2 separate regions of the Homo sapiens genome follow, and region 1 is linked to region 2. The links come from fine-mapping of genetic effects on gene expression. Tissue or cell type: whole blood. Region 2 holds a variant in brackets; the other region holds the start of a gene. All regions are shown on one strand. Distances are between the middles of the regions.

The links.
Region 1: it holds the start of IGFBP7, and the variant in region 2 is fine-mapped to the expression of IGFBP7 in whole blood (INTERVAL, PIP above 0.99).

The regions. Positions count from the first base shown.
Region 1 is chr4:57,106,808-57,115,140 of GRCh38, forward strand. IGFBP7 (insulin like growth factor binding protein 7) reads right to left here and starts at 3,578. Exons shown (of 5, transcript NM_001553.3): 1 at 3,070-3,578. The coding sequence starts at 3,544. IGFBP7-AS1 (IGFBP7 antisense RNA 1) reads left to right here and starts at 2,955. Exons shown (of 5, transcript NR_034081.1): 1 at 2,955-3,163. RefSeq lists a silencer at 3,647-3,716.
Region 2 is chr4:57,053,259-57,061,591 of GRCh38, forward strand. All of the region lies in intron 1 of IGFBP7 (insulin like growth factor binding protein 7), which reads right to left. Among named protein-coding and RNA genes, the nearest start is that of IGFBP7-AS1, 52 kb to the right of the region's middle. The variant G/A (reference allele first, on the strand shown) is at 4,093.

The DNA.
Region 1 (8,333 bases), 54 kb after region 2:
GAAATTTTATTATATATCTTAGCTTCTTTGTATCAACTTCTTTTTATTAAATGGAATCTTCAAATTCCCCCTTCTGGTTATCCATGACTTCAGGGACCTCAATACAATCTAATGGCAGTAAATTCATAATGACAGTTCCAAGATTTGAAATTATTTGCTGATTATCTTTCAGACATATTTTCAAGCAGATCGCTTTGCCTCCTACCAGAGAGGTATGGAAAACAAGCAGACCAAGATCTCTTCCCAGTTGGGTAAGTGGTGATCTTAGAAAGGAGGAAGACTGGGGCAAGCTCCAGGGCTCCAGGGCAAGTGCTCTGGGAGGTGAGTTTGTAACTTGTACAGATACTTTCTTAATCAGCAACATCAAATCTGTTTTGTACATCCCTGGTATATAGCACCTAGTACAGTGCTGACTCAAGTTAGCTGCTCAATAAATGCATGTTAAATGGAACCAAAGACCAGAGGGCAGATTGAATCACACCATTGTGGCTGAATCCCACAATGCTGCCCCTACCTGGCCCCTACTCAAGTTATACTCAAGCATAACTTAAGTTTCTTCTGAGAATAGAAGGGAACCTAGAGGTCTAGAGGAACCTAGACAATGCATTTCCTATTCTGTGCAAAGCCCCAGTATGAAATGGCACAGAAGTAAATGGCACTCTGTCCAGTTTGCTTCTATGATTGTCAAAACCCATCCAGGTGTCAGAAGAAATATTTAGGGGATGTGATAGGGATCAGTCTATTGTCTCTGCTGTGGAAAGTTTCTGCTGTGGGAAAGGCTTCCCATTCTCTTCTGCTCTCTTTGGCATTCTCCTATAAATGGTCTCTGCCATTTAGAACTCATCTCTCTCAATTTAGGATGAGAAGAAATGGCTAATTTAAGTCAAGGTTTCCAGTTTTAGATGCTGTTTTCTCTAACATTTCCCCAAATATAAAGAAAAGCCGGGCCGGAACCCTCAAAGGGTTTGCAGTCTGGAGAGGTACTGAGCTGGGTGTACATGGTAATGAGGTTATGAAACTGGTTCTATATGACTGTCAGTCTCAATATTTTATAATCAGACTGTGTGAGTGTTTGGTGATGTAAGTAGCAGGTGAGAAAAAGGAATATTAAGTATAAACTAGAAATTGACAACACTTGAACAATCACCAAGCTAACCTTCTGCTCTGATAAGGCAAGTATCTGCCATTTTGAAAAAACTATAAAGTTCCCCATTGTAATGTTTATAAGAAAATCTCAATATTTGGAATAAATTCTTAAATAACGCACATTTATCTTTTCATGATGTGACCGACAAATGAGATCCAAAGTAACAAATAACTGTTTCTATTGTAAACATATGCAGATTATTTTGGGTTGCAATTTTCTAAGTTTAAGGTGATGATACTATAAATAGTTACTAGTGAGTTACACAATTTAAGGCTTTCAATAGTGAACTCTGAAATTGATGACATACAACCTATTAGTTTGTGGACTTCTGGGAAAAGCTCTAAAGAAAGAATTTGGAAATTCTGGAGAAAGTCTGAACTGTGTTAAAGAAGCAACAGCTTCTGTAACCTCAGAACTGCCTCCTCTCCCTTTTCTACCTTGGCTAAGATCAGGAGCTGCCAACATTGAATGTCTGACTTTCCCTTGAAAATACTGCCAATGGAAAATGTTATTTCAGGCATTAGAGTTAAAATTTCTATGTGTGTGTGTATGTGCGTGTATTTGCAAGTCCAGACTTTATTTTCTTCTTTCTTTCTTTTTTTTTTGAGATGGGGTCTCTGTCTGTCACCCAGGCTGGAGTGCTGTCATGTGATCTCGGCTCACTGCAACCTCCGCCTCCCAGATTCAAGCGATTCTCCTGCCTCAGCCTCCTGAGTAGCTGTGATTACAGGCATGCACCACCATGCCCAGCTAATGTATATATATATATTTTTTATTAGAGATGGGGTTTCACCGTGTTGGTCAGGCTGATCTCGAACTCCTGACCTCGTGATCTGCCCATCTTGGCCTCCCAAAGTGCTGGGATTACAGACGTGAGCCAACCCACCCGGCCTATTTCCTTATTTCATTTACAGCAAGCTTGGACTTGTTTGGAATAAAATAAACAATCAAACATAATCTCAAAGACATTTCTGCTGAACAGTGTATCCTGGGGACAAATTATGCAAAACAATACAAATCAAAGAAATAGGAAGGAAAAACAAAATGGTCAGAAGGTTGACAACAAAGTGCATCACAAAAACAGTCTTCAAAGAGTTTGTATTTTATTTTTGCCCACAAATAATTAGCTAGTTAGATTACTGTTTGAGAACCTATAATTTTTAGAAAGTGGACTATTTTCTTCAATACTAAGAAATCAGGGCTGTGCACGGTGGTTTATGCCTGTAATCCCAGCAGGCCGGGATTACTTGAGCTCAGGAGTTCGAGACCAGCCTAGGCAACATAGTGAAACTCCGTCGCTATAAAACAAAACAAAACAAAACAAAAAACCAAAAATTGGCCAGGCGTGGTGGCACAGGCTTATAGTCCCAGCTACTTGGGAGGCTGAGGCAGGAGGATCGCTTGAGGCAGAGGTTGCAGTGGGCCAAGATCGTGCCACTGCCCTCCACCCTGGGCGACAGAGCAAGATCCTATCTTTTAAAAAAAAAAGTCTGTCTGGAAGTCCTTACTTTATATTTAATTGTCAAACTCCTTTCCCCCATCTCTTGACTTCACCTCTCTCTACATCCCCAAGCCAAGAATGATGAGAAATGGACAGATGTTAGCACGAGTTGGGTGCGCTTTGGGCATGGGGAAGTCTGAGGTCTCGGAAAATCTTTTCTACATATACACCCGGCCCTCACTTTCTGGACGCACGCAGCAAACTCTCAAAATAAAACCACCAAAAAGGAGAAGGGGGGGCGTCGCCCACCGCTCCTGGCATTCCGCGGCTGCCAACTCTTTCCCTCCCATCTGGCTCCTGGGATGCCCGCGGGGGAATCGCAGTGAGCAGCGCGGGGCGAGGCCGCCGCGGACGCCCCGTCGGATGTGCCCTTCGCTGGGCCGAGCGGCGCAGGGTTGGAGAGGGAAGCGCTCGTGCCCACCTTGCTCGCAGGTGCCCTTGCTGACCTGGGTGATGGCCTTCTCCCCGCGGCTCTCGGCCCTCTGGCTGGCGGCGCGCAGCTGGCAGCCGCTCGGGTAGGTGGTGCCGTCGCTGCCGCACACCGGGTAGCGGCTCTTGCACACGCACACGCCGCTTACACCCGGACCGCCGGCTGCTGCCCCGGCTTTACCCTTCCGCCTCTTGCGGCTCTTCACGCACTCCATGCCCGGCGCGCAGTACCCCCTGCCGGCGCCGCCACCCCCGCACGGCTCGCCCTCGCCGCGGGCGCACATAGGGCAGCAGCCGCACGCGTCGCGGGTCTCGCCCAGCAGGCAGCCCAGCGGGGGCAGGGGCGGGCAGGAGGCCGGCTCGCAGGGGCCGCAGGTGTCCGAAGAGGAGGAAGAGGAGAGGGGCAGGAGCAGGAGCAGCAGCCCAGCGGCGCCGAGGAGCAGGGCGCGCAGCGACGGCCGCTCCATGGCGGGGTGCGGTGGCAGCGGCAAGGGCGCGAGTGAGCCGTGTCGGGCCGGCCGGCGCCTTAAACCCGCCGCCCCGCCCGGCCTGTCCGCGGGAACCACACCCCGGGGCGGTGAGAGCACGGGGGCCCCGCCCGTGCCGCCCTCCCGGCCCCGCGGGGCCTGCGCGCGCGCTCCTGCTGGCGTCGGGGGGTGAGCGGGCACCCGGCGTGACCGGCCCATGGGCGCTCGGTCTCACGCCCGCTTCGCAGAGCTCACCCCGCCAGCTCCTGCTCGGTCCCCAGTCCCCTGCCCCGAGCCCTCAGGGATCGCACCGCAGTGCGAGCGGCTCTTCCACCCTCTGGTTTCTCCCCGTTTCCGGTCAATATATTTAAACTTCTTAACAACCACGGCTTCGAGACGATCCAGGGTTTCATCTATTAAATCCTCCGTGGGCCTGAGACACCTGAGTGCTCATTACTCTGTGGTTTGGGAAGCTCTCTTAAGAACAAGCTGTTAAAAACCCCCACTTGTGGACTGTGTCCCCGCTGGCCACAGGCCTGCTGTGGTCTTGGGTGTCAAGCACTAAAAGGACAAACCGTTGCCAACCACTTCCCTTTCTGGAACCTCTTAACTGCCTGCACCTCCCTCCCCGCTTTGTCTCCCAGTGGCATTCAACAAGACTCTGTGCTTTTTTTGTGCTGAGCCGTTTTCAGTGAGTACTGGAATCCGTGTGAGAGCTGTGCCCTTGTTTTGAGTTCTTGCTGAACTGCTCGCCCTCCAGCAAGCCTCTCGGGAGAACAGAGCGCAGCTGAGAGGAGCAGGGGTCCCAGCTCCTTCCTCGTTGGAGCTGCCACGGAGGCACCTAAAGCGCCCCCAGTCTTCACCAGCATTCCAGGAGGTTTTTGATATAAACGGTGGACTCTTCCTCAGTCTTTCTGCGAAGTGCTCTGCAAACTCAACTTGAAAGCCTCTCTTCCCAGGAACACTGGCCTCTCCAATGCAGACATGGAAGTTGCTTTCACTTTTTAACTGAATGTGTAACATTGCAGCGTGCATTATTCTGCATGTCACATTGTGGTTCTTTTGTGTTCTTTTTTCTTAGCATAAATCCAGGGATTTACAGGGTTGCTGACTGAAAGCCAGCAGTTCAGTTCATAATCCCATTAGCAGTGTAAAGAACTCATTCTCAACAGACTCTTACAAGGATAATTATTGCAAATTTTTTGAAAATTAAATGACCACAAAATCGGGGGGTGGAGAGTGGGGAAACATCCTCCAATCCAGAAAAACCTAGCACTGCTTTTTGGCCTCTCCTTAGTGTATTATAGACAAGTGGAGCATTTTTTTTCCCCTCAAAGGTCATATGTTGACCTGACAGTTGTTTAAAAAACAATGAAAAATCTTTACAGCAGAGTTTCCCTAAATATTTTTGTCTTTGTTCCATCCTAAGAGATGCAGTTTACATGACCCATTTGTTTTCTTGAAAAGGAAACAAATGCAGAGTGCACTCTATTTCCTATTGTATTTAATTTCTTTCTTTCTTTCTTTTCTTTTCTTTCTTTTTCTTTTTTTTATTTTTTTGAGATGAAGTCTCCCTGTGTCGCCTAGTCTGGAGTGCAGTGGTGAGATTTTGGCTCACTGCAACCTCTGCCTCCCAGCTTCAAACAATCCTTCTGCCTCAGCCTCCCGAGTAGCTGGTATTACAGGCATGCACCAACATGCCCGGCTAATTTTTGTATTTTTACTAGAGACAGGGTTTCACCATGTTGCCCAGGCTGGTCTCAAACTCCTGACCTCAAGTGATCCACCTGCCTCGGCCTCCGAAAGTGTTGGGATTACAGGTGTGAGCCACTATGCCCGGCCCTGATTTCCTTTTTATTAATTCACTGGTCAAGAGCCACTAAATTGGTTCCATGATCTAGTATGACGATCTGTCATAGTTTTAGATTCTCCAGAAGCTTTCTCTGAGACAAGGATTCCAGTGCAAGTAGGTCACCTGAGAAGCCACATCAGGACACAGAGATTGAGGGTTGGGGCAGGCAGGTGAGCAAGCAGGAAGGGAAGACAGCCAATAAAGGTGCTTATCTCCGCAGCCAGAAGAAGCCCTCAGGCTCTACAAACTGTGTGTGTGTGTGTGTGTGTGTGTGTGTGTGTGTGTGTGTTTGCGTGTGTAGGGCATGTGGGTGGGCAGTGGCAGCAGCTGTACACTAAGAGCTGTCACCCACAGTGTGTGGAGGTCCTGCATCAGAGCCAACAGTGAGAATGCAAGCATGTGCTACAGCGGAGTCCCTTTGAGGAACCTCCTCACTGCCCAGCAAGCAAAGAAAACAAGCAAGTTTCTGGTCACTGAAAGGGGAACCCGAGCTCTGTGATAGTGCCAGTCGAGCTGGAGGACCTGAAAACAAGAAGAGATGTTAGAAAAAAGGCAGGTGAATGGAGCCTTTAAAGAGCAAGTTGACAACTCCACCCTTCCAATAACAGATATATTGTCACCTGTTCAGCTTCAGTTTTAGTGAGGTGGAGAGGCTGGATGTGGAGATGGAGATATTTTTACTTCTTCCTGTTTAATTGGTGCCTTTTGTTTCTTTTTCTTGCTTAATTGCCCTGGTTAGAACCTCCAGTATAATGTTGAATAGAAGAGGTGAGTGGACACCCTTGTCCCAGTCCTCACCTTAGAGGGAAAGTTGTTAGTTTTTCACCACTAAGTATGAAGTTAGCTGTGGGCATTTCATAGACAGTCTTACCAGGTTGAGGAAATTCCTTTCTATTCTGTTGATTGTTTTTCATCATGAAGTGGTGTTGAATTTTCTTTTCTTTTCTTTTCTTTCTTTTTTTTTGAGACGGTGTCTCGCTCTGTTGCCCAGGCTGGAGTGCAGTGGCGCAATCTTGGCTCACTGCAACCTCCACCTCCCGGGTTCAAGCCATTCTCCTGCCTCAGCCTCCTGAGTAGCTGGGATTACAGGCACATACTACCCCGCTCAGCTAATTTTTGTATTTTTAGGAAAGACTGGGTTTCATCATGTTGGTCAGGCTGGTCTCGAACTCTTGACCTCGTGATCCGCCTGCCTCAGCCTTCCCAGAGTGCTGGAATTACAGGTGTGAGCCATCACGCCTGACAGAGAGTACATTTTAAATGTTCTTGCCTCAAAAATGATAAGTATGTGAGGTAAAGAATATGTTACTTAGCTTAATCTAGTCATTCCACAATACATACATATATAAAAACATCATGTACACTGTAAATATACACAATTTTTTGTGAATTAAAATTTTTTTAATGTTTAAAAAGAATCATTCCTGCTTTCTGAGAGCACCCCATCCATAGCAACCTCCTGCTTCCTTAGACCTTCCCCTAAATTACTCAACCAAAGTCCAAATCCTATAATAGGCTCTTTCTAACACCCCCTTACTGAGACCCCCATAGTTCCATATGGTGTCTATCCTCCCTTGCTACAATGAGTGATAAACTCAACTTATTCAACTACAGGTGCATTCCTGTGATCTTTGGCTGAAGGGTAATGATGCAAGAGATATATGTCCCCCTCCCTTCTACACTACTTCAGCTCAATATTCCCCCAGCCCACAGGACACTCCCAAACCCTTTGCCGATGGGTCCTTGTACCTGGCGAGCACCCTTCTTGGTGGAGTATCTCTAAGACTACTCAGTCTGGCAAGTTTCTTGATATCTGTGGGAAACCCGTGGTGCTGTGCAGCCTGCCCCTGTGAAGTCCCTCTATGTCCAGCCAGTACAGGGCCAGAAGCCAGCCTGCCTATTCAGGAGACATCTAATTGGACAACGGAATGCTTGTCTCTTTTTCTTGCAAACATCACAGACCTCTTGGCTCCGTTATCCTTGTCTTCTTAGGAGTTGGGGGTGGGGCGGTGATTAAGGGGAGGAGAAACCTGCTTTCTCCAGTAAGCTCTCACCCCAAACCTGTTTATATGTGCCTGTGTGTGTGGGGGGGTGGGGGGATGGTGTGTGGGGCTTGTGGTGCTTGTGGCAGGGACATGTAGCATTGAGGAGCATTCTGGTTCAATTTTTTTTTTTTTTGAGACAAGGTCTTGCTCTGTCACCTAGGCTAGAGTGCAGTGGTACAATCATAGCTCACTGCAGCCTCAAATTCCTGGGCCCAAGCGATCCCCCTATTCAGCCTCCTAAATAACTGAGATTACAGGTGCATACCACCATACCTGACTATTAATAATTTTTCTTTGCTTTTGTAGAGACAGAGTCTCATTATATTGCTCAGGCTGGTCTCCAACTCCTGATGTCAAGTAATCCTCCTGCCTTGGCCCCCCAAAGTGCTGGGATTATAGGCATGAGCCACCACACCTGGCCCTGGTCCAATTTTTGGTGGCTCTGCTTTAGAATGTGGGGACACGCAGAACCTATAGTTTTGGGTTGTAGATCCTAGTGCCATTTTTTAGGCAAAGGAAGAGTTGTTCTATTCAACAGTCTGTTACAATAGTTATCTATCATCTTTATTATTTCATTTTTTTCTCCTTTCTCTCCTTCATCGTTATCACCATTAGTAAGTCAGAGATTGTCAGGTGATGGGGTAGGGTGTATCTGATCACCCAAACTCGGATAAACAGTGCATGAAAAGGGGCTAAGCCAGTGGAAACCACTTTGGCATGTTCCAGCTGCCACAAGAAGTTCAGCTTAGCTGAAGCAAGGTGAGTATGTGGAGAAGTGGGAAGAAATGAGTCTGGAGAGAGGGCAGATGACAGATAATGAAGGGCCTTGCACACTGCACCCAGAGCTTTGGACTGCATCTTATAGATGACTGTGAACTGTTGAGGGGTGCAG
Region 2 (8,333 bases):
TGCCCGCTTCGGGCTCCCAGGGTGCTGGGATTATAGGCGTGAGCCACCGCACCTGGCCCTTGATGATGTTTTCTTATTCTTGTCCCCTTCCTTGTATGGGTCTAGCATTAAAAAAAAGTGGGGTACTGACAAAGAGTCTGACTCCAGGGTGTGGTTCTTGCCCATGGTGGTTCTGGTACATGTGGTCTGGTGTCATTCTTGAAGGGACCCTGCTACTGCCATGAAGCAAATCCATGAAGGACTTGAAACCATGTTCAGGTGTGCAAGATGGTGAGCTCGCTCTGGTAACCATGTGATAGATGAGGTAACATGGGGCTGTGCCAACAACATTGCCCAGGGATGAGCTAACGTATTCAGCAGAGCTCCCCTAGGAAGCTGGAATACCTACACTATCATCCTAATACCAGACTGGCTGAGGTCCACACAAGTTGAATCAGCAGGCTAGGTTTTGAATTGGTTTGAGGACCTGGAAGAACTGACTTTATAGAGAGTGCTTTCCCGAGACGAAACTCCCTAGTGATGTTAACATAGCCTTGGAAACACATTTTTTCCACATCTCATGGGCCTGTCCTGTCTGGACTATGACTCACCTTAAATACAAGATATTAAATGTTTTTGCTAGCGCTTTCTTATTCTGCAAGCACTGAATTGGGTGGGAAGTTCCCATAGGAAACTTATTGCTAACCACGTGGATGGTCACACCTGATTCTGGGATTCCTAGAAGCCTAGATAGTGAGTTTCCCTAGGAAATTTCTCCTTCTTTTCTTGGGATGAGATCTTGTTACATTGCCCAGGTTGGTCTTGGACTCCCAGGAGTCCAAGCTCAAGCCATCCTCCTGCCTCAGCCTCCTGAGTGGCTGAGACTACAGGTGAGCAACCACCAAGCCTGGCTAGGACACTTCATCTTGGAGTCCCTGCCCACTCTCAGGCCCCTACATACTAACCCAGTGCCTGGTATCCTCAGACATCAGGAAGGGTTTCTTGAACTACCTGTAAGGGAGGCTCACCCATCTTTAAAGCTTAGTCTCTATCCGTAGGCCCTGCGCTGACTAACAAGAATTCTAAGCAATCTGCTTAGAAATAGATGTGCTTGGCTGGGCACGGGGTGGCTCATGCCCGTAATCCCAGCACTTTGGGAGGCCAAGGTGGGCAGATCACGAGGTCAGGAGATCGAGACCATCCTGGCTAACATGGTGAAAACCCGTCTCTACTAAAAATACAAAAAATTAGTCAGGCTAATTTTGGTAGCACGTGCCTGTAGTCCCAGCTACTTGGAAGGCTGAGGCAGAAGAATTGTTTGAACCTGGGAGGCGGAGGTTGCAGTGCACCAAGATCACACCACGGCACTCCAGCCTGGCGACAGAGCGAGGCTCTCTCTCACAAAAAAAAAAAAAAAAAAAAAAAAAAGAAGAAGAAATAGATGTGCCCCTGGGGAAGAGGATGTAAGAGATTCCCAAGTGATCTTCTACTTCAGGAGAGCTGGACTTGCTAAACCTCCTCCTGAAAACATTTTGCGACGCTGAAGGCCAAGGCCTGAACTCCCTGGGAGGATGCTACAATGGGGCCAGTTCTGCTGTTCCCTGTACACTCGGACAACCAAGGAGGACCAGGAGACTTAACACCTTGGGTCTTCAGTAGAAGACTAAAGTTCTTCAGCTCCCTGAGAACCAGACACGTGTTTAGCACCACTCTGCCCAAGGAAAAGATTCACACTTTAGAAATCCCAGCAAATCCTTCAGGCGAGGCTGACGGCACTGGAAAGTGCCTGTGGGGTCCGACAGTGCAGTATAGGGTGACCCTCTTAGACCAGGAGCTACCAAGCAGAGGTTTATTCAGTCTCCAGAAGGCTATGCAGGTTGGAAAAGATTTCATAGCGGGGCATCTGCAGAAATAGGCAGCAGACACGCAGAGCCTCAGCCACCGGGTACTGGCCTCTAGGAAGGATTCTGTCCTGCAGGATCTTATCCAGTGGTTGCCAATCCTGGCTGCACACTGGACTCATCTGGGTGTGTCGAAAAAAATGCCCATTCCTGGGCTGCACTCCTAGTTTCTCACTGGTCTGGGCGTGGAGTCTGGTACAGGTATCTTAAAAAAAACTCCCTAGGTAGAAGTACTCAATTAAAACATTGTTTTTGAGTAGGAGATACTCAGATGATTAGGAAGACAGGAAGGTGGAAAGTTAGAAAGGAGGAGAGGGGGACAGATTAGAAGAAATTATGTTCGTAGGTCTTTTTGGGGAGTGAGAGGCCAAGTACTACTTGGGAGGTGCCAGTATTCACGGAGAATTGAGAAAATCCAGTGGGCTGGTTCTGGGTGAAGGGTACAGACACCTGATAACACCAGCACCGCCACCACTTCAATCACGCGGGGGTGGACAGGGTCATCGCGGTTCTCCTGGACTGCTTTCCATTTTCATAAAATAGGGCAGTCATCTCCCACCTGCACCCTGTCCCTCTTCTGCCCTCCTCATTCCTGCCCTTGACTGTTCTGTATGGAGATGGGGCTCTGTGTCTGGAGTGCATGGGTCTTATCTAAAATCCCTCGAACTTGGGAGCCGCCCTTTGCTCATTTCTGGTCCGATTGCCTCTCTGTTAAGACATTCGGTTTGGCTTTAAGCGGGCAAGGAGGAGGTTGAATAAAGGGATCTCTGTGTGCGAATAGCCCCCTTCAGACTTCCATGGAGCAGAGCGCAGGGCGTGATGGCTGCTTGGCGGGCGTCTGGCGTTTGTACTTGCGTATGTTTTTACCCTCCAGGCCCCGGACTCCCATTGTCACAGCCCAGCCACCGTGACTCCCTGGCAGACAACCCCAGACGTTAGCCAGCCGCGCATAACTGAGCTCCTCCTGCTCTTTCTCAGTGTTTTCCTCTTCTCCAGCTTGGCCCCTCTGGTCATTTTCTGAGCCGTTTTGTGATGTCTAGAGACTGAAAAGCTGTCTGTTATCTATCCCATCCTTTGCTCATGCATTCTTTGCTGAGTGTTCTCAGATTTTCTCTCAGCTTCCTAGCAGGATTTCGTGTTTCTTCTCCCATTTTTGGTATTTTCTCTAGTGTCGTCCCTAAGGCTGAACCTGGAATAGAATGCTCCTCTTACGCTAGTGTAGGGCTAGTTCTTCTCGTGTGTGTGTCTTGGGTACTTAGGATAAGTATTACTGTGTGTTTGAGTTCAGCTACAAGACAATTTTTCTGAGTGCTAAGAGGAATTGAGAAGGTGCTAGATGTGGGTGCAGTAAACAGTCTGGGCCAGGAACAGCCAGACTGTTCAAGTGAGGCTCAAAAGTGCCAAATAGCACTGCTCTGAAATCAGGGAAATGGGGATGTCTCTCTGATCACAGGAGAGGAGGACCTGCCTGGTGAGAACTGGAAGGCTTTGCATAAGGAATTTACCATTTAGCAAGGCAAGTCACCCTTGCTTTTATCAGGCTGGGGGACAGAGGAGTCCATCTGGCTGGGTGTGAGCTGTGAGAAATGGGAACAAGGTGAAGCAAAGCTATGCCAATGCACGTGGGACATGTTACCTCACAGAAGGAGATTGCAGTGGCATGGAAATACTCTTTTCTGCTCTTATTGGCATTTTTCACATCAGAAATCTCTGCATTGGCACTTTGGCTAATTTTAGGCAGTGATTATTTTTCTTTAATTAATGGTGCTTTCTTTTTTTGAGTTTTGTTTTTTATTTCACTTGAATTATTAGTTCCCTAACAGTGCAGGGAGACACAGAAAGGAGTTTTTCATGATTTCTATAGTAGATTTTTTTTTCTTTTTTTGAGACAGGCTCTCACTCTGTTATCCAGGATGGAGTATAGTAGCACGATCATGGCTCACTGCAGCTTCGTCCTTTAGGGCTCAAGAGATCCTCCCAACTCAGCCTTCCAAGTAGCTGGGACTACAGGCACATACCACCATCCCTGGCTAAGTTTTTAAAATTTGTTTTGTAGAGACAGGGTCTCCCTGTGTTGCCCAGGCTGGTCTCGAACTCCTGGGCTCAAGTGATCCCCCTGCCTTGGCCTCCCAAAGCGTTGGGATTACATGTGTGAGCCAGTGCACCCATCCGTAGATTGGGTTTTAAAGGTGAGGACATTATGCCTTTACAA[G/A]GACTGGGAGAAACTACATGCAAAGTATCCTAACGGTCACGTGAACCTGGGGCTTATTGTAGAACTTCCAAAGGCATTTCTTCTAGAGCAACCATCAGTTCTGGCCTTGGAGATTTTATTCTTTTGTTTATGTAAATGAAAATAATTTCCTCATAAAACAGGGGATTTCAGATTTGGCGCCTCTTCAGAGCAACCATACATAAAAGTAGGAAACTCATTCTTTAGAGGCACGAGGAAGAAAATGTTCTCAGTACTCCCGAAATTGGCCTTGGAGCTGCTGTTTATGCCTCCCTCATCCTTGCTTTTTGGGTATGTTCTCAGGGAGTCTCTTTAACAACATGTGTGACCCTTTTAGGAAGCTGGGCACTTCAAAGATAATGAATGGATCTCTGAACTTGGCTAAGGCAGCAGACTTCAAGCACTAAGACAATGCTTTTTCACAAACACCAGCTGCTTGTCAACAAAGGGGAAGAGGTAGAAAGTAATCCAGGTTTACCTAGTCCTTGGGAAAGGGTTATGGTCTGAGCCAGTACATCAGCTGAACTGACACTTGAAGAGAAGAAAGCTCAAAGTAAACTCAAATAGAGAAAATAAGAACAAGACTCTTGGGATACATATGACTTTGACCTGTCTCCAAATTTCCACCCCATATCCATGGGAGCTTGGCCTCTGTGGAGAACAGGGAGTCATGGTCTGTGGAACAGAGAGAGAGAAGATTAATCCCATTCACAAAAAAGTCGTGGGTAATTTTTTTTAATCAGCAAGGAGCATTTTAACTTACAAAAAAATAAGGAATAATAATTCCATAAATATTTCATAAGGTTAGCACTAGCTAGCTTTCCTCAATGGCTTGTAATGTGCTCAGAAGATGATTAAAGAACAGATCTTTCTGGAACATACTGATCATCATATGTTAAATCAGGCTGGACAGAAGTTCAATTCCTAATAATTAGGGAACATAAAAAAATGTCAGAGGCATCACGTTACTTGACTTCAGACTATACTATTAGGGCTACAGTAACCAAAACAGCATGGTACTGGTACAAAAACAAACATCTAGATCAATGGAATAGAGAGCCCAGAAATAAGCCTGCACGCCTACAACCATCTGATCTTCAACAAAGCTAACAAAAACAAGCAATGGGGAAAAGACTCCCTATTCAATAAATGGTGCTGGGATAACTGGCTAGCAATATGCAGAAGATTGAGGCTGAACCCCTTCCTTACACCATATGAAAAAATTAACTCAAGATGGATTAAAGATGTAAATGTAAAACCCCAAACTATAAAAGCCCTGGAAGACAACCTAGGCAATACCATTCTGGACATAGGAACAGGTAAATATTTCATGACAAAGACACCAAAAGCAATTGCAACAGAAGCAAAAATTGACAAATGGGACCTAATTAAACTTAAGAGCTTCTGCACAGCAAAAGAAACTATCAACAGGGTATACAGACAACCTACAGAATAGGAGAAAATATTTGCAAACTATGCATCTGACAAAGGTCTAATATCCAGCATCTGTAAGGAACTTAAACAAATTTACAAGAAAAAACCAACCCCATTAAAAAGTGGGCAAAGGACATGAATGGACACTTTTCTAAAGAAGACACACATGTGGCCAATAAGCATATGAAAAAAAGCTCAACATCACTGATCATTAGAGAAATGCAGATCAAAACCACAATGAGATACCATCTTACACCAGTCAGAATTGCTATTATTAAATAGTCAAAAAACAACAGATGCTGGCAAGGTTGCGGAGAAAAGGGAACACTTATACTCTGTTGGTAGGGGTGTAAATTAGCTCAACCATTGTGGAAAGCAGTATGGCGACTCCTCAAAGAGCTAAAAACAGAACTACCATTTGATGCAGCAATTCTATTGCTGGATATATACCCAGAGGGACATAAATCATTCTACCATAAAGACACATGAACAGGAATGTTCATTGCAGCACTATTCACCATAGCAAAGACATGGGATCAACGTAAATGCCCATCAATGACAGATCGAATAAAGAAAATGTGGTACATATACACCATGGAATACTATGCAGCCATAAAAAAGAATGAGATCATGTCTTTTGCAGGAACACGGAGGGAGTTGGAGGCCATTATCCTCAGCAAACTAACACAGGAACAGAAAACCAAATACCACATGTTCTCACTTACAAGCGGGAACTAAATGATGAGAACTCATGAACGCAAAGAGGGGAACAACAGACACTGGGTCTACTTGAGGGTGGAGGGTGGGAGAAGGGAGAGGAGCAGAAAGGGCAACTATTGGGTACTAGGCCTAACACCTGGGTGATAAAATATGCTGTACAACAAACCTCCATGACACGAGTTTACCTATGTAACAAACCTGCACATGTACCCCCAAACCTAAAATAAACTTTTTTTAAAAAAGAATATTTAAAACAAAAAAAAGAAAAATGTCATCTAATCATCATCAACTTTAATATCTATCCCTATATCTAGAGCACTAACTTGTACTACTGCTTCGTTGAATTAATTCCTTAAGGGGAAATTCCTATGGAAAATGGTTTAAAAGGTGAGAAAGGACTACAATAATAACTAACTAAATCACATTTCAGCATTGTATAGCATTAAGCAGGTGAAAACATGGAATGGATTAATTTGTCCCAGTCCATCATGAACTAAGTGATGTGCTGGGTCACATGAGGAATAGAAAGATGTTAGGGTTGGACTCCTGTCCCATAGGGATTTACAATCAGGAAGTGAAGACAACTATACATGCAATTATAAAACAGGCGAAGTGCAACTGGTCCTACGATAGAAATACAAATATAAAAAATAATCTCCTGGGCTGTAATCCCAGAGTTCCCAGACAAATGAGGTCTGGCTGCTTGTTCTCGAGTCCAATAACAAGATGCAGACAGACTGGGAAAGGAGGGAGTTTATTTTTGCAACCAGTTACAGGAAGAAGGTCAGAGTAACTCACCAGATCAACTCAAAGTTACAAGTTTTCCTTTAGCTTATATACACAATTCAAGCTCTATGTCTACTTGTGGGAGTGTTTCTTAATCTAATTTTAACTATGGGTCTGTGGGTAGGAAAGTTTCTTAAGTGGGTCTTGGTGCACGCTTTGATCCCTCAATCAGGTTTGAGGTTGAGGAAGTCCAGGTAAGGTTTTAATAGGTTTGTTTTTGCATTCGAGCTTTCTTACTCAGGCACCAGTTACCCCAGTTCGTTATCCATTGTTTTCTACTTCTGCTTTAATGTTTAACTTATACATTCCTCATTACAGCAAAGGGTTTATGGAGATCCAGCCTGCTACACCAGCACTTTGGGAGGCTGAGGTGGGAGGATCACTTGAGCCCAGGAGTTTGACACCAGCCTGGGAGCCTGGGCAATATAGTGAGACCTCATCTCTAAAAAATAAAATATAAATTAGCCAGGCGTGGTGGTGTGCACCTGTAGTCCCAGCTACTCAAGAGGCTGAGGCAGGAGGATTGCTTGACCCTGGGAGGTCAAGGCTACAGTGAGCTATGATTGCGCCACTGCTCTCCAGCCTGAGTGACGGGGCAAAAAAGTTTTTTTTCCTGTAGTCCCAGCTACTCGAGAGGCTGAGGCAGGAGGATTGCTTAAACCCAGGAGTTTGAGGCTGTAGTGCCTGTGATTGTGCCTGTGAATAGCCACTGGATTGCAGCCTGGGGCAACAGCGAGATTTCGTCTCTGAAAAACAAAAAAAATTCTTACTGAGTAGGTCAGAACTAAATTCATGAAAGAGGAAATGGGCTTTCAGGCAAGGGGATCAGTATGTTCAAGATGTGGGAAAACTGTGTGTCGTTTGCAGGAAAAATAAAAATACAATAGTCCACCCTTATCCCTTCAGGGGATACTTTCTAAAACCCCCAGTGGATGCCTGAAACTGTGGATAGTACCGAACTTTATACAGTATATATTAATAGTATATATTAATACTATGTTTTTTCCAATATTTTCCTATATATACATACCTCTGATAAAATCTGTTTTGTAAATTAGGCACGGTAAGAGATTAACAACAGCAACTAATAGTAAAATAGAACAACTATAACAATAAACCAAATTTATTATTCTTGCGCTTTGGGGCCATTATTAAGTAAAATAAGGGTTTCTTGGAACACAAGCACTGTGATACCATGACAGTCAATCTGACAGCTGAGACAGCTACTGACTGACTAATGAGTGGGTGGTGTTGACAGCGTGGATACCCACACAAAGGAAAAA